Regions from separate parts of the Homo sapiens genome. Here regions 2 and 3 are each linked to region 1. Evidence: fine-mapped expression QTL. A gene starts in region 1. Each other region holds a variant in brackets. All regions are shown on one strand. Distances are from middle to middle. Region 1 holds the start of PRKD3 (protein kinase D3). Region 2 overlaps NDUFAF7 (NADH:ubiquinone oxidoreductase complex assembly factor 7). Region 3 overlaps QPCT (glutaminyl-peptide cyclotransferase).

What was found.
Region 2: its variant is fine-mapped to the expression of PRKD3 in whole blood (TOPMed, PIP 0.97).
Region 3: its variant is fine-mapped to the expression of PRKD3 in whole blood (TOPMed, PIP above 0.99). The same link has a PIP of 0.9 or more in blood mononuclear cells.

What each region holds. Positions count from the first base shown.
Region 1 is chr2:37,319,721-37,327,998 of GRCh38, forward strand. PRKD3 (protein kinase D3) reads right to left here and starts at 5,113. Exons shown (of 19, transcript NM_005813.6): 1 at 4,961-5,113. PRKD3-DT (PRKD3 divergent transcript) reads left to right here and starts at 5,361. Exons shown (of 2, transcript NR_183394.1): 1 at 5,361-5,802; 2 at 6,757-7,044. RefSeq lists an enhancer at 4,124-4,203 and a silencer at 4,844-5,473.
Region 2 is chr2:37,240,289-37,248,288 of GRCh38, forward strand. NDUFAF7 (NADH:ubiquinone oxidoreductase complex assembly factor 7) reads left to right here. Exons shown (of 10, transcript NM_144736.5): 5 at 1,290-1,503; 6 at 2,347-2,405; 7 at 3,575-3,685; 8 at 5,764-5,907; 9 at 7,168-7,341; 10 at 7,847-8,000. Among named protein-coding and RNA genes, the nearest start is that of NDUFAF7, 13 kb to the left of the region's middle. The variant T/G (reference allele first, on the strand shown) is at 3,118.
Region 3 is chr2:37,345,823-37,354,100 of GRCh38, forward strand. QPCT (glutaminyl-peptide cyclotransferase) reads left to right here. Exons shown (of 7, transcript NM_012413.4): 2 at 6,967-7,113. Among named protein-coding and RNA genes, the nearest start is that of QPCT, 5.3 kb to the left of the region's middle. The variant G/T (reference allele first, on the strand shown) is at 4,420.

The DNA of each region.
Region 1 (8,278 bases):
TATCTATGGTCAACATTTTTAGAGCCATACTGATTTAAAAAAAAAAAAATCATGCACGCAAAGGTAAAAATAATGTCATGTGATAAAAATGTGCTTAACAAAACCAAACAGAATAAGTGGTTTTCAAATACTTGAATAAGTGTTAATAGGAGAATTGATTTTATTCAGTATCACTGCAGAGGGTAGACGAAAAATGAAGATGAGAGCACTTCTTACTTAACCTCACAGGTTGCAAGGATTGAGCTACGGGGTACAAACTATCTGTAACAACACCTGGCTAACAGTAAGTGCTCAGTAAGTTTTAGCAATTTTCACAGCAATTAGTTGAAGGAATTAACAACTAAGCCTTTACTTTATGCTAAACACATAAAGTGAGATATGATACTTTATTAAATCCTTGCAACAACTCTAGGAGGTTTAACTCTATTTTCCAGAAAAGAAACAAGAATTTTAGAGAAGCTGTTGTTTGCCTGTGACTATAGCTAGTAAGTGATAGAAATGAGATTCAAACTAGTTTCCCTGACTCCAAAGCCCAAGTTCTTTCTACCACATTATTCCATATCCAACAACCTAACAATGGAACAGGTTGTCTCACGAGGTAATGAGCTCCACAACGTATCTGACTTAAGTAGTTTTTATAAGATGAACTACCAAAATAAAGTAGTAAAATATCTATGAATAAAACTGTATGCAAGTTAACGACTTTTTTTTTTTTTTTTTTTTTTTTTTGAGACAGAGACTTGCTCTGTTGCCTAGGCTGGAGTACAGTGGCGCGATCTTGACTGATTGCAGCCTCCGCCTCCCGGGTTCAAGCGATTCTTGTGCCTCAGCCGCCCCAGTAGCTGGGATTACAGGTGCACATCACCATACCTGGCTCATTTTTGGATTTTTAGTAGAGACGGGGTTTCATCATGTTGGCCAGGCTGGTCTGGAACTCCTGACCTCAAGTGATCCGCCCATCTCGGCCTCCCAAAGTGCTGGGATTACAGGCGTGAGCCACTGCACCTGGCCCAAATTAACTACTTCTACTTTGATGAATGTCTTCCCACTAAATATCATTTTATTATACCTAGTAATATTAGCCAAATAACAGTGTTTAATACAACTAATTTATCAGAACAAATTACAACTATTCATAATAAACACTACATATAAAAATGATTTTTAAAAGTCTCAGTATTAACACAAATAGAAGAAACCTAAGAGCTGTCAGATTTCTGCCCACTCTTTCCATTTTCCCTCTCCTGGTTTGGTTTATGGACCCCAGATTTACTCTGGAAGATGCAACAAGATGTTGGGTGAAAAATATTAAAACTAAATATTAAACCTAATAACTGTAACTTACATGAACCTTGATATGCTGCTTAATTTTGTCTTTACGCTTCAATTAGAAAACTGAAAGAAGAGTACATCTTATTAATTTACAAACTATATACCAATTATATATGCTTGTTTCTAACAGGGGTACGAGGCTCTAAATAATATCATCTAGTTGGCAAGCATTTCTAATATGTTTATTTAGAACTTGTCAAATATTCTTTTGGGGAGCTAGCTGTCACATATTCCATTCAAATGAGCTTACATAATCTGTCATCATTGTTACTGGAATCAAAATATAGGATATTAATGGCATCTTGAACCCAGTCTGTCCTATTTTACAGACAAGGTGAAACAAAGGCCCTGGAGGTGAGAGGACTTACTTGAGGATTATCTCACGGTAATATCACAAGTTTATCTACTTCCTCTCCCTCTCCTTCCCCTTCCCCCATGCACACATTATCTCATTTTTAACACTCTAATTAGGAGAAGCTCTAACAGCAGTATTTCCACTTAACAAATACTTAATTAGTACTTATTATTTCCCAGACTGTTATGAGAGACACTGGAGTTATAGAGCAGTGACCGAAACAGACATGGCCACTGCTCTCTCTGAAATTCAAAGTGTGATGTGAGACACAGACATAACATTCATACAAACAGCTGGGTAATTATAAACTGCAAGAGGTGATATGGCAGAGTATACTAAGGGGACTCAATTCCAGCTGGAATCTCAGGAAAGGTACCTTTAAGGAAATATTTAAGCTGAGATCTCTGGATAAGCAAGAGTCAACGATGCAAAGAGACAGACAAAAGGATTCCAGGAAGGCAAAATGCATCTAGTTATTAAATTCTTCAAAAAGAAGTTCATTATTTAGTGCAGCATCATTCTTTTTGTACAATACTCAGCAAAGGCTAAAGTGAAGAGATAAAATGCTTTTCCTATTGGAATAACAATATTTATTATAACATGAATTCCTCCCAGTAAAGAGTTTTCCAGGTTCAACTTAAGTTTTGTGTACTAGAAATGCTAATGACGTGGAGGGTTGTGTCCACGCCTCTTGACATGTATTAATATTAGTATTCTTTTACCACGTAAAAGTATGTGGCCTTTTTCAATGCAATTCTGACCAGCGTCCTAAAGTCCATGTCCATGTTTTGACATAGGTTTGACTTTGCTTAGTAATTGTTCTTGCTTTTATATTGTATGTTGTATTTAAAAACTCAAGTGTCTACGTCGTTGGTTTTTAAAAAAATCATATCTTGTAGCAATCCCGACAATGATTTATATATTTTCAAAAATACCTATTACTTTAGATTAACATACTTTTCCTAAGAGCTTAGCATTTGCTAAATTGTTTCCTCTAAAATTCTGCTCATCTGGACCAGTGACAGTTGAATCTCAGTCCTTCCACTGTCAGAGAGTACTGAGAGAGCACACCATATCTGCTCTGCTCAGGAACTGAAAAGTTTATCCAGTAATAAGATTATGGACTGCCAGTCTGGCAATGCAATATGAATCCATGTTGAGCTTGACAGATGTTAGTCTCTGCACCAGTAGTAGCTAAGAAATCTGATTGGTTAGCAGCCAATGAGCAATTTCTCACATACTGCCACAATAAACTAACCACAGAAATGGAAAAATTTTTTTTCCTACATTAAAATGAAAATATCTCATAAGCACATTATCTCAAGTTTTTCCTGAGAGGGCTACTCAAAGAGATACATATATATATATAGCAAGTTCGATCTGAATTACATAATCAGCGAGACTCAAAGTACAATCATCACAGAAGATTGTGAATTATAAGCAGCATTATATCAAATTAAAACTTGTACTAGCAAAGAATTTCCTTATATATCAAGCTCTGTACAAGCAGTTTCTTTTAAAAACGAACAATTAACTCCACTGTAGTATTTTCAACTTTAGAGTCTTTTAAAAAAATGAGAACAAAATGTCCCTTAAGAAAACTGCACTTAAATGACCACCTATTCATATTTTTCTGTATGTGGTGTTTTCAATTCGTAATTTAAAAAAATGTAATATCAGAAAGTTTTATTTATGAAGTTCTGTGTGTGTGGCAGTGTTTAAATCCACGAACAGAAAGAAATTTCTATTTTAAAGTGGCTATCTGATGAAACTGAAAGCTTAAAATTTTCTCTAAAAGACTTACCATTATCTAGGATGCTTAAAAAATTAGTTTTAAGATACACATCAGTCAACATTCTTAATGTGAAACGCTATATACTAAATTACAGAACCTGAGTCACCCTGAAATGTGAAATGCTATATACTAAATTATAGAACCGAGGATGGAACCTGGCTCGTCAAGGAGTACTCCAAGCTCATGCACTCAGGCCCACCACAACTGTATTACTACCTACTGAAGAAAAACCTTCCACGGTTTCTGTGTGACACGTTTCAAATCCTACTTTTAGAAAATCTTCTAACTTCTTGGCTGAATGTCCATGCTTGATCTTAACTCGGAATCTAACAGGGAAGGAAGCAAGGGTTCGTTGACAAGGAAAAACTGGCCTAGATCTCAGTCGGGGGAACTTTATGGACGCCTTCTGCAGCAAAGCTAAGGAAAATGAAAATCGCTAAAAATGTAAGAACGACGACATTAAGTAGAAGGGTAAAAAAAAAGTTTCAGAGGAATAAAATAACATTTTCTAGGATACAAATTAAGGCATTTAAAAGTTCTTGTTCCATTTGTGGCTATGTCTCATAAAAGCTGTGTCGCACCAAGCAGCAGTTCAGGGTGTAACTTATCCTTCCTAATCAAAGATGACACCGATAGTCTTATTTCCTGTGGGGATGGGTGTGATTGAAGACACAGTTACGTCCATGCCATCAATCTGTGTGTGGAAAAGTCGGCAGGTCGCGCGCACACACTTGTCGCTTGAATCGTATGTGTGCCTGCAGACGGCAAGGCCTATGCCTCTGACTGCGTTCACCTGAAATAAAATACCCAACCGGCAATACAGTAGTATATGGTTATTTTCACTGCTCAAAGAAACAGTGGCACTCCTCAGTGTTTCAGCTTAAGGAAAACCTCCCAGGAGGGAGCAACTCGGAACAATGCTGCAACTAGCAAATCCAAACGCAGTCGGGATACTGGGGCGAGGGGCTTACATTCTCCAAGCACCATTTACTCACCCCTTTGAGACGACTACAACGCAAAGTGAGGAAATGAAACGAAAAAGCTGGTCCAAAATTCGGCACTGCGAGCGCCGCGGGTCTGGCTTCGGGAACTAGTTTGGGAGACCCGGGAACGGATCGCCTCCGATGGGCCGGGCGCGGTGGTCTCCAGCGGAGCGCGAACCCAAGTTGCCCTCCGCGCGGACGCCGGAACTTGGCCCCTCTGGCGGCTGCGGCGGCGCCCCCGCTCCCCCTCAGCCGCCCACCTCCCGCCGCGCGCTCCCCCAACTTCCCGCCCAGCGCGGCTGACACCGCCCAGCCCGGCGCGGGGTCCGAGTCCTGTCGCCGCCGCCGCCGCGTGCAGTTGGGGGGTTGGGGGTTTGGGGGATGGGGGAGGGGCCGCCGCCGCCTCAGCCCGACGGGCCGGGAGAACAAAGCGGCGGCGGCGGCGGCGCGAACTTTTTCGGTGTCTGTTCAGCGCTCCCCGAGGCGACTACTTACAGTGGCAGGCTCGGCCCGTCGTGAGAAACTGCGCCCGCCAGCGTCTGAGTACCGGACGAGGCGCCAGCGAGGCTTCACGCGCCTCGCAGGATCCCGCCCGCCTCCGGCGCCCCTTCCTCCCTCCCTCCCCGTCCCGTCCTGGGGCCGGAGGGCGGGGGGCCGGGGCGCGCGGGGGGCGGGGGCGCGCGGCCAGCGCGGGGCCTGCCGGGAGCTGTAGTTCCTCGGCCCGCGCCCGCCGGGAGGTGGCCGCGGCGGGAGGTCGGGGTTGTCTCTGCCCCGCGAAGGGGCGCCGGGAGCGCCGGGTACAGTCGGGCTGGCTCCGCACCCTCGAGTTCCGGGCGTCTTCGTGAGCGCGGGGGCACGGGGCAGGGGCGCCGCGGGAGTCGCGAGCGTGTCTATCAGTTACACGCGGTACTTGATCGCGCTGTTGCCGACGGTACTGTCTTTTCCTCTACTGCCGTGCACTCTTGAGGGAGGCGGTGGCGACAATGGGCCAGAGGTGATAGTTGGAACGGGGGACTTGTAAGGCGTCCAGAGCAGAGAGCTGCTTCCACCCTGAGATGTCACAGCCCTCCCGCATGCTCCTCCCTGCTGCCTGCCCCCGGGGTGGCCGCCGGCACCGCAGCTCGGCGCCCAAACCGGCACGTCCCAAGCCCGACGTTCCGGTGACTGCAGGGGTTTTCCCGGTGCTCGGTGTTTCCTCCCCGTCGGCCTTTAAACGCGAATGTGACCCTACCACCAAAGTGGAGTGCAGTCCAGAATCACCAAACCTGGGCTTCCAGGTGTCTGGAAACACAATGTTAACATTTGTTTTGCTCCAAAACAAAGTATGACCGTGTCGGGTGAGTGGGGCGGGAGTGGGAGTCAGCAGCATAAGGATCTAGAGGGAAAATACACTGTGCATAAATTTTCGATGTCTTATGTGAGAGAAAGGCCTGAGAAGCTGACAGGCATTGTCACAGAAGCCACATGATTCTCCTTATGTCAACATTTTATCCCAAAAGTACTTAAATATATTGAAACAATCAGAGGGACTACAATCAAGAGGGCAGTTTTCTTTCTTCTCTCTTTTTCTTTCTTTTCCCCTTTCTCTCTTTCTTCTTTCTCTCTAGAAAAGGTTTTACTCTGTCATCCAGGCTGAAGTGCAGTGACACGATCATAGCTCACTGCAGCCTGGAGCTGCTGGGCTCAAGTGATTATCCTGCGTCAGCCTCCCAAGCAGCTGGGACTACAGGCGTGTGCCACCACGCCCCACTAACTTTTAAGTTAGTTTTTGTAGAGACGAGGTCTCTTGCTGTGTTACCCAGGCTGGTCTCCTGACCTCAAGAGATCCGCCCGCCTCGGCCCTCCAAATCGTTGGGATTACAGGCGTGAGACACCGCGCCCAGCCAAGAGGGCAGTTTTCAAGAATAGAAAGAAAAATAAACATAAATTAGCCCCTACTTTTGATACAAAATCATCACTCTTAATGGATGTCCTCGGATTTAAAGTTAAGAAATGAAAATATTAAGATAATTTATATTAAACATAAGGCAGGTAAGATTGTGTAAAACCTTGATTACTTTATTTAAAAATCTATTTAAAAAAAGATTTCTGAAACATTCTCAGGAATTGGAAGTTGCTAAATGTCTTACATCCAGCAGTATCTAATTCAATCTTACTATATTTTTGTTATTAGAGTCCTATTCAGCTATTCTTTTACTTTAAAATTGAAAGTAGATTTACTCAAGTTTGCCTTCTTTTTAAAGGACTCTCTTGCTTAACTTTGCCCTTTTCTTCCTTTCACTTCCCAACAGACGTTTTAGTCCAGCCCCAAATTTTGCCTCTGAGCAAGATTCCCAGGACCTCATTGGAGCAGTTTACAGCCAGTCTTATCTCACTATTAACTTCCATTTTCTGCTGTAGTACTTAAAGTGACAGAAGTTACTCTTCCTAGAAGTAACTTTTCCAGACGATTCAAACTGCTGTTATACAGAGATTTAAGTATTTGTGTGCATGTGTGAAAACAGAGATATGTAATGTATATATTTCATTTTATTTCCACTGTTCTGCTTCTCTTTTTAAAAATAAAGCGGTCTCCTCCACTTTGGGTAAATCTTTCAGCACATTTGATCAAAGAACTATCTTTGTATCTAATTTTTTGCTTAACATGAACTACAGTTTCCTCAAGGTGTTCCATTCCTGAGCATTACAGAGATAAAGATTGAATTTAATAAATAAGTGTATTGCCATGTGAAATGTTTTAATCCTTGAGAGAAAATATAATCTGAATGCTCAAAATGGAAAGGATTTTTCTTCTTGCTGGTGTTTTATGAAAACGAGCTTACAATATTGCTCTTCTATGGCTGCAGTTGGAGAGCTTGTCCCGCATTATTGGGCTCCTTGTACTTAATGACACACAACATAGCCATTCAAATATGTTACCTAATGCAAGCAAAGAAAGTCAACACTCTTGTGACTTGAGATAACAGAGACATCTGATTTAGAAACCTAAATGCAGGGGGAAAAAATGATCTGCCCGCCGCAGTCTCCCAAAGTGCTGGGATTACAGGCATGAGCCACTGCGCATGGCCCTTATTTTTATTTATTCATCGTTTAGCACAGTGCTCAATAAATGTTGATTAAATCAGTGAATTTTTTCACTAGGGAAATTGATGACAATTTCCAGCTAGAGGAAATTGTCATCATTTTAAAACTGCAGCTGGTTTTAATTTATAGAATGTGGTCACTGGAAAATTATTTTGTGATTGTGTCTTTTTCCATGACCTTGAAACACAGCTGAAAAATTCAATAAAGCATTTGGGTATCAATATAGAGTTAGTAAAATAGTTATGGGAGAAAATGCTTTAGGATCTATTTCTTTATCAGCAGAGACATACGTGATGATATAGTTCTCAAAATGTCCTGTCTCAGTTTCCACTGCCGTTATCCTAGTCCATATCTCACATCTGGATTACCACAACAGACTTTAAGTTGGTGTCCTAGACTAGCTCAAACTGTTATATCCTTGGAACTGTCTTGTCTGATTTGCAGGCTATCAATAATTGTTCTGTGTTCTGATAGCCCTTGAGAGATAATTCTCATGTGGCTCATCACATTTTATTGTGGACTGAGTGTTTATCACATCCTCCTGGGATCGCTATCTGCCCTTCCCTTTTCTGAACTTGAAGAAGACCAGATCTTTTATTTATTTATTTATTTATTTTATTTATTAGTAGAGACAGGGTTTCACTATGTTGTCCAGGCTGGTCTCCAACTCCTGTCCTCAAGTGATTCACCAGCCTCAGTCTCCCAAAGTGCTGGGATTACAAGCGTGAG
Region 2 (8,000 bases), 80 kb before region 1:
TCTGTGGTCGAAGCTAGTTGAGGGGCTGAGATGGGAGGATTGCTTGAGCCCAGGAGGTTGAGGCTGCAGTGAGCTGTGATTATGCCTCTGAGTAACAAAGTGAGACCCTGTCTCAAAAAAAAAACCAAAAAACACCAACACATACTCAATATAAATTTAAATTTCTTGATGCTTTATGGTTTTTGCTTTAAATTAGAAATTAAAGGATTTAAAAAATATATAAAATATATAAACATATGACAAATAAGAATCTTGATTATTTGGGTGAAGAAAGAAAACAAAATCACGAATTTAAATTTCCAGGGCTCTATTTTATGTTTTTCAGCAAGGTCATTTGAATATAAAATATTTAATAAGGACCTCAAATCATATTCTCTTGTTCAAGTACTTTAAAAGTTGATTCCAGAGCCCTTAAAATGTATGAAGGATGCTTTTCCAGACTGAGTCATAAGAAGTCCTAAAAGCCAAAGAATTTAAAGGGTTGTAAAGCAAATAGCCAGAGAAGTGTCAGACCTGTTTTATTTTTGATGTTACCTTCTGAAGGAATTTCTCCTGGGAAGTTTTTCCATTTGTATTTCGATCTCAAAACTAAATTTGGAAAAATCATCTTGTTCATATTATCAGTCTGGATGTGCATATTCATATCTCAAAAGTATTAATTGGAGGCAGATCACCAGTAGAAATTAAATTCAAATGAAAAATAATGTTGATACACTTTATGCTTTTGCTATTGATTTTTTAGCCTTAAAAGATTGGTAAAATATTAGTATTTTCCTTTTTCCCTTGCATGTTTACAACAGTGAAAAAATGTGTAGCTAAATATAGATTGAAAATGTGGCAGACCCCCGAGTTAAGCAGTCAGGTTTTCAGTACCATTCAGATTTGGTTCTTTGAGGTTAGAGTTCTCATCATCTCAAAGATGAGATTACTTCCTAGACCTAGAGATGTTATCAAATCAAGGCTGTGTACATTTTATTTCCTTGGTCTTTTTTTAGACTCCATAATCTGAATCATTGTTTTTATCAGATGCCAAATCTTTTATTTTCATTTGTTAATCATAATTTATCATTAGGAAACCAAATTGTGCATTGTTCATTTCTTATTTAGATTATGCTTAATAACTAGTAGGTTAGGATTCTTATAGACTGCTGGAGAGTGGCTTGGGTAAGGAACACATCTCTCTGAAATATTACCTCTATTGTGACATGACTAAATCATTGATGTAAATGATTAGGAAACTTAAAACCTACTTAACACATTGTATTTTTTTTTCTTCTTTTGGTATTTAGGTGTTCACTCAACTTGGATCTGTGCTGAAAAATTGTGACATTTCAGTACATCTGGTAGAGGTAAGCCAAAAATTAAGTGAGATTCAAGCATTGACACTGACTAAAGAGAAGGTCCCGTTAGAGCGAAATGCTGGATCCCCAGTGTATATGAAAGGTGTCACTAAGTCTGGGATTCCAATTTCCTGGTACCGAGATCTGCACGATGTTCCAAAAGGTAATTACCTTTATGTGGATTAATGAAAGAATTTTGATCACAACCCTCACAGTATTGATGGGACTGTAACTTTTTACAGCAATATAATAGATTGAGTTACTGCTGCCAAGTCCCTTATCCATAGAGAGTAGCCTACTTTTTTCTAGAAAAGAGCATCTTAATAGAAAATAAAGTTGCCTGACATTAAGTAGTAGTTTATTTCATGAAGCTTTGTAAAATCCCAAACAAAATGTAAATCTCCTTTGTACTTTTGAGTATTTCCCTATAGCTAGGGTTGTACCGATGACGGAGCAGCCCAAGGCAGCTGGGGCTGATGGAAGCAGTGTTAGTAGGTGGGTTTAGTTCAGTTATAGAGTCTTTTAAAAAATCCTTACTTGCCTAAAGACAAGCAAGGTGTGGGGGAAAATCCCTGTACTAGTCAGGAATACTGACTAGTATTGACTAGTTTGAGTCTTGACTCAAAGCCAAAGTGGGGGTACGATCTTGGGTAAGGGATCTCAAGCCATTCCTGCCTCAGCCTTCTCAGGCTGAGAAGCCCGATTTTATGAAATCAAATTCCCTTCCAGCTAACAACTCTGACTTCTAATTTCTTTCAAGCCTTGTGATGAATAAAAGCTTTAACTGCTATTTCAGGTATTTCCATTTTCTGACCCCATTTATGTGTAAAATAAGAATAGTAATAATTGTTCTATGTTCTGCAGTGTAAGTTTTCCATGAAGAGGTAGATAATTCTGTGGTAGTGATGATTATGGAGGAAGTAGGCATTTTTTTTACAGTTAATATTCAAAAGAATTAATTCCTGTGAAATGTGGAAACATTAATTGTTTTCCTCTTTTTAAATAGGGTACAGCTTTTATCTTGCACATGAATTTTTTGATGTTCTTCCTGTGCATAAATTTCAGGTATTGAGGGGGGAAAAAAGTCATGTCTATAATTGAATACAAAAGGCATTGTGTTGCCAATGTTTATGGTATTTATTCAGTATACAAATTTTACTTGTTGAGGTTATTTTTAACTATTATTTGGAATTTTGGTACACAAATAATTCAAAAGCAAAAAATGAAATATTAATGAGAATTGTTAGTTCTCCTGGGATAATTATTAAGAATTCTTAATTCTTCTGATTTGAAGAAGTAAGGGAATGAAAAATGGTAAGATGGTAACTGGCTGTGGTGCAATGAAGGATTTACTTAAGCAAAAAAAAAATTTTCTTTTTTAAGAGATAGGGTATTGCTATGTTGCCCAGGCTGGTCTTGAACTCCAGGGCTCAAGTGTTCATCCTGCCTCAGCATCCCAAGGAGCTGGGACTACAGGTGTGCGCCACTGCACCCAGCCAACCTTAGCACATTTTAAAAAATTATAGATTAAACTTTTTTGGGCCAGGCATGGTGGCTTACACCTGTAATCTCAGCACTTTGGGAGGGCGAGGTGGGTGAATCACTTGAGGTCAGGAGTTCAAGACCAGCCTGGCCAACATGACAAAACCCTGTGTCTACTAAAAATAGAAAAATTATCTGGGCTTGGTGGCACGTGCCTGTACTTCCCAGCTACTAGGGAGGCTGAGGCATGAGAATCACTTGAACCCAGGAGGCAGAGGTTGCAGTGAGCTGAGAT[T/G]GCACCACTGCACTCCAGCCTGGGCAACAAAGCGAGAGCTTGTCTCAAAAAAAAAATAATAAAACTTTTCTTCATTCTTTCTGTGAGGAGATTTAAGATTTGGTGATAATGTATATGTACTGGTAATTTGTGAGGAGAAGAGCAGCTCTCATGATCCTGTAGTAATTTGTTAGTAAAGCTTCTGGCTGTTCTTCCTGAGTCTATTTCCGTTTTTGGGGTACTTTCCATGCTGCTGATTTTATCTTCCACAGCGTCATCTCTGTTATTGTTTCTTTTGCATCGATTGGTCTACTCATTGTTCAAAGGCAATGAAGTAATGAATTTAAGTAATTTTAAATAGTAAGTTCTCTGTAAATGTTAGTTACTTATGGTAAGAGGAGAAAAAGCTATTTTTGGTAGAAGCAATGTAGAGAACAAACTTGCAAAAATTTGTTTTTATGTGTTATTTTGTGTTTAGAAAACACCACAGGGATGGCGAGAAGTATTTGTTGACATTGATCCACAGGTTTCTGATAAACTGAGGTTTGTTTTGGCACCTTCTGCCACCCCAGCAGAAGCCTTCATACAAGTAAGAATATGCTTTTTTAAGTTTCTTTTATTGCTCACAGAATCTTCAAAGTCTTATTTTCTGAGTTACTACTTTAGAGTTTTAGAGTTCCTTTACAGGAAGAGTTGCTAGTAGCATACGAGGTGCTTTTTATTGACAGTGAAAGTGCAGAGGAGCTAGAGGCAGGAGCATGGGTTAAAATCATTTCTTAAGTGTGTGACCTTAACGTCATGTAGTAAGAGAAAGTAAGTAACCGCTTACTCAGCCAAGTCTCTTACTTTCACTGCTTATCTCAGTTTCATGTCAAATGGTAATGGTATTGTCCACAGGAAGAGTTTACATCTGTGAAAGCAATGTAGTACAGACTATAGTAAATTAACAATAACAGCTAACGTTTGTTGAGTACTTTGTGTTACTCTGTTTTCTCATTTAATTCTCAAAGCAACTATATTAGGTAGGTTCTATTATTATCCTTCTTTGGGCTACAGCATGGCTTTTATCCCATGCTTCCACACAGATCTCAGTTTGATTCGGCCAGAATGGTAGAATTACTACTGCTTTCTGTTGATCTCAAGGAATCATTGCAAGAGCCTGTCTATTGTGGCTTGTTTAAAGGTACAAAAAAATCCCTGTACTTCTCAGGAACGTCCAGGCTTCAGACTGCCTCTTTTTTTTTAATCCTTTTTTTCCAGCTCAGAAGATGATTTTTACTTTCTGGACCTTAACTGAGAACTTCTTACTTAGAAATTATCAGTTTTAAAAGCACAAGAGCTTTTAAACTTAAATGTATGAATTAAGTTTTGTTAAGTATAAATTTAAATGTCAGACTGAACACTTATGAACACCTGTTTTTTCATAGTATAGCAATCTAAGTTTACCTGAATGACATATTCATAGAACTACCAAGAACTAACCTCCTGGCCCTGGGAGTTCATTTAGTTCTTGACCTAATTAGTATTCACTTAGGAAGGGAGGGAGCGAATATTCTCTTTCACTTGAATGAGATGCGTGGTAATACATGTCATCTTGAAGAGTAGCCTAAGATAGAATGTCAGCATGATCAGCGTGTCCACTGATGCCTGATGAGGCTGACTTCATGGTTTTTATAGTTAAGCCACAGTAATTTGATTGCACTATTAGCTAAATGGTTAGTTATATTTAATCCTCACAATAAACCTACAATATCTATAAGGAAGAAAACAACTCAGAAAGTTTAAGTAACTTGTCTACCAGTAAGCATAGGAAGAGCTGAGATTTAACTTCATCTGACTCTATGCCTGTTACCATAGGCAGACATCAGGGCAGGTCATTACTGCATTTCTATAATAAGGTGTTAGGAAGGAGTACAAGTTAATGTATGTTTTCATAATGAAGGGAAAGAAATACCACATTTTCAATCAGATCAGGAAGTAGTGAAATTTCATATATACTAGTCAGGTTGACAAGTGTTAATACTTAGTGTGATTTTGCTTTTTAAGCTAGTACACACTTATTGTGGCCCCTTAGTTAAGTGGACATCTTGGGGTAATAACGGTTTCAATACATTGGCACTAGTTTATAAGCCAGCGTTTCTTGATGTAGGGCATATCATTGGGATACTTTCTGGCACAACAGAGGGCATGATAATATAATTGTCTAATAGGGTCTGCTTCGTGTTATTGGATTTATACCATTTGTTCTTTCAGCACAATATTTTCATTGACTGTTATGTGCCTGGCACTGTTCTAGGCAGACAAAAAAAATCCCTTTCCCATGCTTTCAACCTAGAGGAATGTGTTTATATGATTTGTGATACAAAAGTAATTTTACATTAAATGATAATGCTCTAGGCCATCTGGGGGGATTGGGAGGGCATTTGCCTTTTTATAAAAGAGATTAAAATGTCTTTGTATATCAAGTGGGATAGCATCAAAGAACTAAGGAGTTTTGTATAATAAAAAGGGAGTCAGGTGAAAAGTTGAGTGTAGAGAACATACTCATATTAAGAATTTATTTTTATTAAAACTAAGAAATGCTCATTGAGGAAAAACCTGAAAAACCGTAAGGAAGTCATTCTTTTGAATGATGCATTTTGACTCTTGCAATGATCCCTTTACTAGCATGACGAAACAAGGGATCATGTTGAAGTGTGTCCTGATGCTGGTGTTATCATCGAGGAACTTTCTCAACGCATTGCATTAACTGGAGGTGCTGCACTGGTTGCTGATTATGGTCATGATGGAACAAAGACAGATACCTTCAGAGTATGTATAATTCAGTAACATGATTTATCAGAATTTCAGTGTTAGATCTGAAGCCCATTGAAGAGCTTTGATTTCTACAGTGCCTGGTATTGTTGTATTACATTATTTTATAGTTAACATTAATTCATGTTATTGTAATTCCCCTTAACCCTAGTTCTTACTGCTAACACTGAGTCTACTGTCCAGCCCTCCTTTAACAGGATCTGAATTGTGTACATTCTTCCTTAGTTGTAGAACCTATGTTTATATAAATCCAGATAAGCAGCTGAATAATACAAATGGAAAGATTTTCTTCACATTCTTAAACCTATCTGTAACCCCCTTCATTCAAGAAAAATTTTGGTACTTCTTTACAGATTTAAACTACCTACTGTAATCATTCTAGCTTTTTCTATCATATTTTCAACATTTTTTCCCTTTCCAGATGTATTCTTTTACACTGTTCCTAAACATCCTTTCTTAATGATCTTTGAATATAATCAATTCTATTCAATATACTTTAATTGAAAAACATTTAACTAAATGCTCTTAGTCATTTTCTAGGTCTGTGGTTCTTAATTTCTAACTTTATCTAAAAATAACCTGGATAGTTTGTTGAAAATACTCATTCTCTAGCCTTACCTCCAGGATTCTGACTGACCAGGTCTGGTTAGGGTCAGTAATATATTCTCAGGTGATTTTTTTTTAAGTAATTTCAACTTTTATTTTAGATTTAGGGGGTACATGAGGCAGGTTTGTTATTTGTTACATGGGTATATTGCATTGACTCTGAGGTTTGGGGTACGAGTGAGCCTGTCACCCAGGTGGCAAGCATAGTACTCAGTAGATAGATTTTCAGCCCTTGTTCCCCTCCTCCTGTCTCCCCTCTAGTAGTCACCAGTGTTTGTTCCCATAAGTATGTTCACGTGTACCCAGTGTTTAGCTCTAAGTGAGATGTACATGTGGTATTTGGTTTTGTCCCTGCATTAATTCACTTAGGATAATGGCCTCCAGCTATGTCTACGTTGCTGAAAAGGACGTGATTTCATTTTTTTTTATGGCTGTGTAGTAGTTTGTAGTGTATCTCAGGTGATTCTGATGCATGGTTGATGCATATACTTTGTAAAACACTGCCTAGGTGTTCCCTGCCTAGAGAATTAATGAGAGCTCTATTCCGTCACCTCAAGCATTAATGTAAATATTAAATAACTTTAATATGATAGCATTTCTTTAATCTTAATAACCATAAAAGGGCAAAAATCTGATTTCTTTATGTTCAAGGGGTTTTGCGACCACAAGCTTCATGATGTCTTAATTGCCCCAGGAACAGCAGATCTAACAGCTGATGTGGACTTCAGTTATTTGCGAAGAATGGCACAGGGAAAAGTAGCCTCTCTGGGCCCAATAAAACAACACACATTTTTAAAAAATATGGGTATTGATGTCCGGCTGAAGGTAAGGTTTATTTTATTTCACTGTTATTAAGTACTTTCATAGTATTTCAAAAATTACTTTAAATAGTATGTTCACCTGGCCTTAATGCTCTTGTAGTTAGCCAATCCTTGGTATTCCAGTCTTTTCAGGTAGTATAGGATTTAGTAACTAGTCTGGTAAGTTTTATGCATCTCCATGGGAGGTAGCATTAAGACTTCCAAATAGTGTTTTTGTTTGTTAAGAAAACTGCGTTTATGGGTATGAATTTTCTAACTGTTCTTCTGAGAACACCTAAACCTTACTGTAGATCAAACCCCCTGAGGATATTTGTTAAAAATGCAAATCCTTAGGTTTGTTTCACACCAATCTACATTTTTAATAAGTACTCTATGATTCTCAGGCAGGTAATCAGAAGTCACATTTTGAGTGCTGTTTTATTGGAATATTTGAGAGTCATTAGTATTGCTGCATGTAACTAGGAATCCTGTCTTCTGGTTATTTTTGCTAAGAATTTTTTTCTTTTCAGGTTCTTTTAGATAAATCAAATGAGCCATCAGTGAGGCAGCAGTTACTTCAAGGATATGATATGTTAATGAATCCAAAGAAGATGGGAGAGAGATTTAACTTTTTTGCCTTGCTACCTCATCAGAGACTTCAAGGTGGAAGATATCAGAGGAATG
Region 3 (8,278 bases), 26 kb after region 1:
GAGACTCCGTCTCAAAAAAAAAAAAAAAAAAAAGAAGTATATGGGTTCACAATTACATGGGTTCACAATTACTTCCTTTTCTTGTGTAACAGTTTTGAAATCATGAAATTGCTAAGGGATTGTGCAAATATTAATGATGTCAGCATAAAATAGTATGTTATAGAGATATTAAGAAAAGCAGCAAAGTGAAGCGATATAAACTTTGGCAGTGTTATTGAGCAGACCTTTTACACACTTAGAGTATGCCTGTATTTACTCAAATGTTTGAAATACAGGGCACGCTGGTAAATGCCCACTCCCACCCAGCTACATGCATATATATATGAATAGCCCATTTCAATTCTTCGGATCTAATGTAATCACCACTCAGGGGTCACAGCAGGCCCCACTTACACATGGAGACCACAGGCCACAGGGAACCTGGTGGTAGTGAGGGAAGTCTGTAACATAAGAATAACTTTATTTTAAGGAAAACAACTTCCCATGGGGGCCCATGAAGAAGAACGTGGAATGACACACAAAAAATCCTCTCCTTCTCTTCACTGAGAATACCCTTCTGGTCAGAAATTGGGAAGAGAACATTACAGACTGGAATATGGAGCCACACCAAATGTATCTTTGTGATACATCTAAATGGAAGGGAATAAATGAGATGGAAACTGAACAAACCACTCTGAAAAGATCATTTGTAGGTGTGTGTAGGCAGGGGGTATTTATGGGTGGGAAAAGGTGCTGTGATTCTTAAAATATTTTAAACCAATGAGAATTTAACTTTTGAGAAACGTCTTTTAAAGCATGAATCCCTTTTATATTTATTTTAAGAAGCTTCTGATCACTGTTCCATTGAGAAACTGAATGTTTTCAAATCATTAAAAGCAAATGACAATCAGCCATCACATTTCCCAGTTTCTAGCTTCCTCCCCTTATTCTGTAGACCTTCATAAAGTCTTGCAGCCTGGGTGATGAATCGGTCCACACTAAAATATGTGCCTTCCTACTTTTTATGGTGTTCGACTATTTTAATCATATGATGTATGTCTTTGGTACACTGGTCTGCTAACAGGTGAGGTGTGGTAAAGAAAGCATTGATTTTGAAATCCATTTCCTTCGTTTTGAAATAAAGATGTTTCTCTTTCAGTGGCTTTGAATATGTAAAAGCAGATCAACTGTAGTTTATGGTGGCATTCAGAGGCCATGATTTGATTATGTATTTGAAACCTGGAAACAATTTTTCCATAGTAACAATATTATAAATTGTTAAACTCCCAGGTGGGCACACACCTGTGTATTTAGAGGCATTGGCATCTGGGTATGGGGTGTTTTATATATATATATATATATAACATATATATATATAACATATATATATAACATATATATATAACATATATATAACATATATATATAACATATATATATATATAACATATATATATATACATCCACCTCACTTGAACTTCACAGCAAGCCCCATGAGGAAGGTACATTCATCCTCAATTTATGGTTGAGGAAACTTGACAACTATTGCACTAGTGAACTGAAGAGCTAGGGTTTGGCTTAAGCCCTGATCTCTCCTTTCTTCTTCTGTGCTTTTCTAATGGTAGATGAGTCCTGGCTGATGTACCCGGAACAGTGCCCAGGTAGTGAAAAAGTGTGGGGCTAGCAGGGAAGTTGGAGGGCCAGATGAAGAGCTTACTCTCTCTTTCTGGGTCAGGGTGGACCCTAAATGGCATTCTAAAACAGGTAGTTTGGTTTTGGTACCTTCTCTTCTGACACCCCCTATTTTCTCCTTTCCTTGATCTCCTTCATGCAGCTTAAAGGTCATCATTAGTCTGGGTGCTAATCCATATTCCAGAGTTACTTCTTCTGAATCTTCCCCAGGCCTTTTGGTCACCAGTCTTATTCCTTTAGTACAGGCCCATTCCTTTAGTACAACATTGTCAACTAGCTATTAAACAGAATCTCATTAAATCATTCTTCCTTAGGTGCGAATGACTGATGGCTTTTGAGGGCTTTATATGCTCTTTAAAAATATTAGTTTCGATAAACTAAAAAGTCTGCCTTCTATTGAAGTCTTCTAATTATAAAGTTGACATGTGCTCATTTTAGAAAACTTGGAAAATACAGAAAAATACACTAAAAAGAAAACTAATGTCACCCATAACCCCACTATTCAGAGATAATGGCTATTAACCATTTTGGTGTTTTTATTTCTATCTCTCTCTCTCTGCGCGCGCACGCGTGTGTGTGTGTGTGTGTGTGTGTGTTATTGTTGTTGTTGCATTCTAATGGAAGCAACGACGGAGACTCTCAGGCAGTGACGTGGAAGTTAGTTGGGGGCTGGGTGTTGGTAGGGACAGAAAGACAAAATGTCATTTTGGAGCCTTACCATCTAGTTGGTAAGTATCATGAGATCCATTTTACAGATATGGACTCTTTCCTAGTCACAGCTAATAAGCGAGGGAGCTGAGATTTCACCCTAAGCTGTTGTGGTTAAAGCCCGCACGGCTCTGCTTTTAAGTAGAGGGCTGCTTGCATTTTAGAAAAGACAGATGTTGTCTTGTTCAGTTCCTAACTATTCCCCCACTGAATTTTTTATATCAGTGGCATCCGACACACAGAAGGAGTTCAGTAACTGCTGATTGAGCTGACTTTGCAGACAGACAGAGGTGTTAATCTGAGAATTGCCCGGGAGACATTCATATAGAATAGAAACTGGACTTGCATTGGCTGCATTTCTGTAATGATCTCCCTTTAATTCAGTCTTTTGGAACCTCAAAACCCTTTGCAAGCTGGGCCAACTCTATCAATTATGTAATTAAAACCCTCTTTAAAACCACATGATTAGCCTAGAAGAGATGCTTCAGGATATCTGGTTCACACTTTTGGCTGAAAGATTCTTGCACTCAGAGCAGACTTATTGTCCTTTCTGTCTGGATGAAAAGACAAGGCAGGGGCTGTAACAGAGCCTCATTCCTCTGAGAACACCTGCACCAATAGAAAATTGTCTAAGTGTCTTTTAACTGAGATAAACCTACAATAAATTGGGGTTTGCATTTACCATTGGGCTCAACTTTGTTTTTGCCTGAGTTACTTTCCCCCTGCTGAGCTCGCTCTTTCTTTCCAGCTTTTTCCTCTTACTCATTCATCTCATCTCCACCTAAATTTGTATATCTATTGAGTTCTGAGAATAAGACCCCTCAAACATTGAATGCATGCTATTTAGGTTGGGAAAGTCAAATGCTTTTCCACACAGGGCTTTAATGAATAGAAGGCTTAAGTAGTTGACTGAGTGTAGTTGGTTGTTTCCTCTTCTCTGTCCTTCAGTTACTGGGAAGCTTTTAGCTCTGGGATTTTACAGGGGCATCTTTGCCCCCAGAGGGGCAAGGAGAGTCAGGGCTCTTTACTGAAGTATGTTAATTAAATGGTTGAGCCCAGGAGGTTGAGGAGCAAACACATGTAAGTCTCTAGATTCATAAGCATCAATAGGCCTGGCCTGTCTGCTGGATTTACCCTTTAGTCATCCATTAAGCATTTTTTGGTGCTATTTGCCAATTAGGTTTCATCTGCAGTATCTCTTGTAGTTAAAGATGCTTGGGGGAGGGGGCATTTATTTTGTTCCTGTTTTTTCTTAAATGTCTTAAGAGCTCTTTCAAGCCTCTAGAAACCAGCCATTTAAACACAAGTGATTTCGTTTCACTCTGGACATGGAGTGAAAGCTTCTATCCACAGTGACCAGATGGGCTTTGGGATAGAGTATTGGACAGTAAGCAGACAAGGAGCCACTGGTAAACAGCTTTTGACACAACAGTTTTGGTTGTCATAGTGACTGCTTGGGTCAACCCAGCTCTTCATCGTCAGAAGCATCGAATGTCAGAAATTCAAAAAGAGCAAAGCCCAATAACATTGAACCACAGCACTTCCTGGCCATTGCAGCAGGTAGCCACCTGTCTCTTCTGTCTTTATGCTTGCTTGTGCATTCAGCTGATTTATTATTTACAGTGGCAGAAAAATGCCCATGTTACTTTATTATTATATAAATACAGTCTTAGCAAAGATAATTTTAGAAAGATAGTTCATCTGTTGATTGCTTTTTTGATTAATTTCCCCAATATTTATCAAATGCTCAAGATGAACCAGGCCCTGTGTGGCCTGTGTGGGAGAGAGAGGTAAACAACAGAGAGAGAGGGAGTTCCAGCCCTTATGGAGCTGATGTCTTGTATGAAAGACAGACATTAAACAAGTAAACACACAAAGAAGTGGCCTCCAAGCTGCAAGCTGAAGTGAGCAGGAGTTAGCCAGGTGAAGAGGAGGGGAAACAGCTTGTAAGGCAGAAAGCACCGCAGATGCCAAAGCCTCATGGGGGCAGAACCTCAGAGCATTTGGGGCCTGGCCAAATGCCAGAGTGACCGAAGCATG[G/T]TGAGCAAGGGTGAGGGGGGAGACCAGACAGGCTTCTGTTGGCAGGGTTGAGTAATAATTAACCATGGAAGTCTTCTGACCTCTTGCCTCCATATTCTTCTTATCCCTTCGCACATTTCTATTGCTTTGTCTTTCAGCTTCAGCTTTCTTTTCCAACTGTTGTTTGGGAGCTGGCATGAGGACTTAGATCCTGGAGGTACCAAGGGATTTAAAGCCTGCACTGACAAGTTTATCAAGGAAATATATTTAAAAATGTCCTACCAATAAACAAAGACAAATCTTCTGATGTTCAGGCACAGCACCAATATTCAGGAATAAACTGGAAGTGCATAAATGAGACAGTGAGGCAGAGTAAAACTAGCATGGGATTGGAAATCCCCAGACAGCGGATCTTTTTGTGGATTTACCTGTAACTCTCCTTCAACCTCAGGAAGTCAGCTGGTTTCTATGAATCTCAGTTTCCACTAATATAAATGAAGGAGGTTGGAGACTAGAGCATCTCTAAGTGGCTTTTCCAACTTTAAAATTCATTCTATGGCTCTTTAGTGTTTGATAGAAGGAAATAGTAACTAACACATTGAATATTTACTATGGCAGTTTACATATGTTAGTTCACTTAATTCTATTTACCCTAGGATTCAGGTATTACTACCTCTGTTTTACAGATGAGGAAATTGAGCCTTAATGAGGTTTAGTAACCTGGAAAGATTTACAGCTAGTAGGTGGTGGGGTGCTGAGTTGAGAGGCTGAGTTGAGAGGGTCTGTCTGATCCTATAGCCCATGCTCTTTGCATGGTAAGTACTGGAAAGTAAACAGCCATCTCGGAGTATAGATGAGTGTAAATAATTAGGCAATAAGCATTCTTTGAAGTCCAGTTTCACACCAGTCCCATGGAGTCGATCACATGGAATGAAAATAGTTGCATGACTATTTAAGCGTATCCAGCTAACACTGGTCCTGAAAGGAACTATAAAATAGGCCTCTCCTAATTTCTGTTTTGCCTTCCAAATAATTCAATATTCTTATGTCATCCTCATCCTTCCCCTTAGGGAAGAAGTCATCTGATCAATTGTTCTCTTCCTGTTGAGGAGGAGTAACACATTCCATTATTAGGTGCCTGATAAACATGTAATGAATGAATGGTTCATCATTACCAGTATCATAAGAATATACAGTATGTGTGAAGTCATCCAAAATACAAATTTGAATGTTATGTGAACTTTAATGCAATTTAAAAATAATTTTAATTGAAGTTAAAAAGTCTACTATTTAGTTGGCTATAGATTCACCAAGCTCAGGCTGAAAGGAATTGCAACAATCATCTGAGTTGGCACTGTCTAATAGAAATAATGACTCAGGGCTGGGTGCGGTGGCTCATGCCTGTAATCCCAGCACTTTGGGAGGCCGAGGTGGGTGGATCACCTGAGGTTGGGAGTTTGAGACCAGCCTGACCAATATGATGAAACCCCGTCTCTACTAAAAATACAAAAATTAGCTGGGCATGGTGGCATGCACCTGTAATCCCAGCTACTCGGGAGGCTGAGACAGGAGAATTGCTTGAACCCGGGAGGCAGAGGTTGCAGTGAGCCAAGATCATGCCATTGTACTCCAGCCTGGGCAACAAGAGTGAAACTCCATCTAAAATAATAATAATAAAAAAGAAATAATGACTCAGCTACTCAGGAGACTGAGGTGGGAGGATTGCTTGAGCCCGGGAGGTGGAGGTTGCAGTGAGCCAGATTGCACCACTGCACTCCAGCCTGGGTGACAGAGAGAAACCCCAACTTCAAAAAAAAAAAAAAGATTATGAAAGAAACATATGTAATTTTAATTTTTCTAGTAGCTACATTAAAAAAGTGAAAAAGGGGTAAAATTAATTTTAATAATATACTTCATTTAACCTAATATGTCAAAAAATTACCATTTCAACATGTAATCATTATAAAATTTTGAATTAGGCTTGCTATTAAAATCCTATTAAAATTCGAGGACCCCTTAATTTGTGGCTCATCTATAAAGTCTTCCCTGACTACTCTCCCTCTATACTGTGTAAGATTTACTTAGGCTAACAGTTGGGTTTTTTAATTATTTTTAAAATTTTTACTGAGACAGGGTCTCCTTCTGTTGCCCAGCTGGAGGGCTCAGTAACACAGCTCACTGCAACCTTGACCTCCTGGGCTCAAGCAATCCTCCCACCTCAGCCTCCTAAGTAGCTAGAACAACGGGCATGCACCAATGCGTCACCACGCCCATCTAATTTTTTCATTTTTTGTAGAGATAAGGTCTCATTATGTTGCCAGGGCTGGTCTCAAATTCCTGGGCTCAAGCAGTCCTCTTGCCTCAGCCTCCCAAAGTGCTGGGATTACAGGCTTGAGCCACCGTGCCCAGCCCTAACAGCCCAATTTTAAAGTTGAGTAGTTTAATTTACCTCATTTGACATAAAGTTCTCCCTTATTTTGAAGTTTTAAGCAATTAATTGAAAACATGTCAGAGTCTTAAACATGTTATGAAAGGATAGCTAGTTAAATGATTTCATTCAATCCTCAGAATTACCACCAGCCAGCCATTTTGAATTCATCGGCTCTTCGGCAAATTGCAGAAGGCACCAGTATCTCTGAAATGTGGCAAAATGACTTACAGCCATTGCTGATAGAGCGATACCCGGGATCCCCTGGAAGCTATGCTGCTCGTCAGGTGAGAACATGGGACACAAACCTCAAGCTTGTGTGAATACTGTGCTTTCTCATGAGGGATAATGTTATGGCTGAAGTTCTGAGGTGTCTAATATTCAGATCTGTCATCTCCTCATTCACCAAATAGTCAACCAAGAAAAATCAAATGACTGAGAGTACATGTCTGTTCTGAATTAAGTGGTACATGTTAATGTCAATAGTTTATGTGTGAAATCTCTATTTGGGGTACAACATTACACAGTCCTTCACTCTTGACCATTCAATAGCACACCCCGAGGCTCCCAATTAAGTTTTCTTGAATCCTAAACAATGAACAGCAACAGGCTTAGGGAGTCCTTGCTTGAAGGTTCTAAGTCAAGAGTATCATTGTACTGTCAGGCCATCACTCGCCTTAGGGAAATTGTATTTTCCCTGGAGGGAGAGTTAAGGCTGGTGATAAGCTAGCCGCATTTCTCCAGGGCAGTGCTTCTCAAACTTCTGACTCTGACACAAAGTAAAAAAAAAATGAATTTTACATTTTATACACACAAACGTACTGGCATATTTAACTGAAACAAAACTTCCACGAAAAATATTCTTACAGCATTTTACTGCAATATGGTCAGTTCTATTTTATTGGTTCTTAAAAAATGCTGGTCATAACCCACTAAACTGATTTCAAGACCCATTGATTTTACCACTGTTGTGGAGGGTAGAACAAGCTGGGCCAGACCTTGAATGCCTCTTTGCCTCCCTGATGTCAGTCTTCCTAAGCAATCTGAAACCTCACCTCTGAATATCTGTTTTTTTCAAACTAGCCCCATTTTAAGGGGCCGCTTGGGAAGGAATGGGACTGGCCCTTCACATCCTCTTCTGAAACTCCTCAGGCAAAAGACCTTGGCACCCACTGCTGTGCCTAGATTGAGAACTGCAAGGCGCAGGTGCCCAGCTCTTGAGCTCTTCCTTTCGATTTCAGAGTCTCGCTCTGTCACCCAGGCTGGAGTGCAGTGGCGCGATCTCGGTTCCCTGCAACCTCCACCTCCTGGGTTCACACTATTCTCCTGCCTCAGCCTCCCAAGTAGCTGGGACTACAGGCGCACGCCACCATGCCCGGCTAATTTTTGTATTTTTAGTAGAGACAGGGTTTCACCACGTTGGCCAGGATGGTCTCTTATCTCCTGACCTCG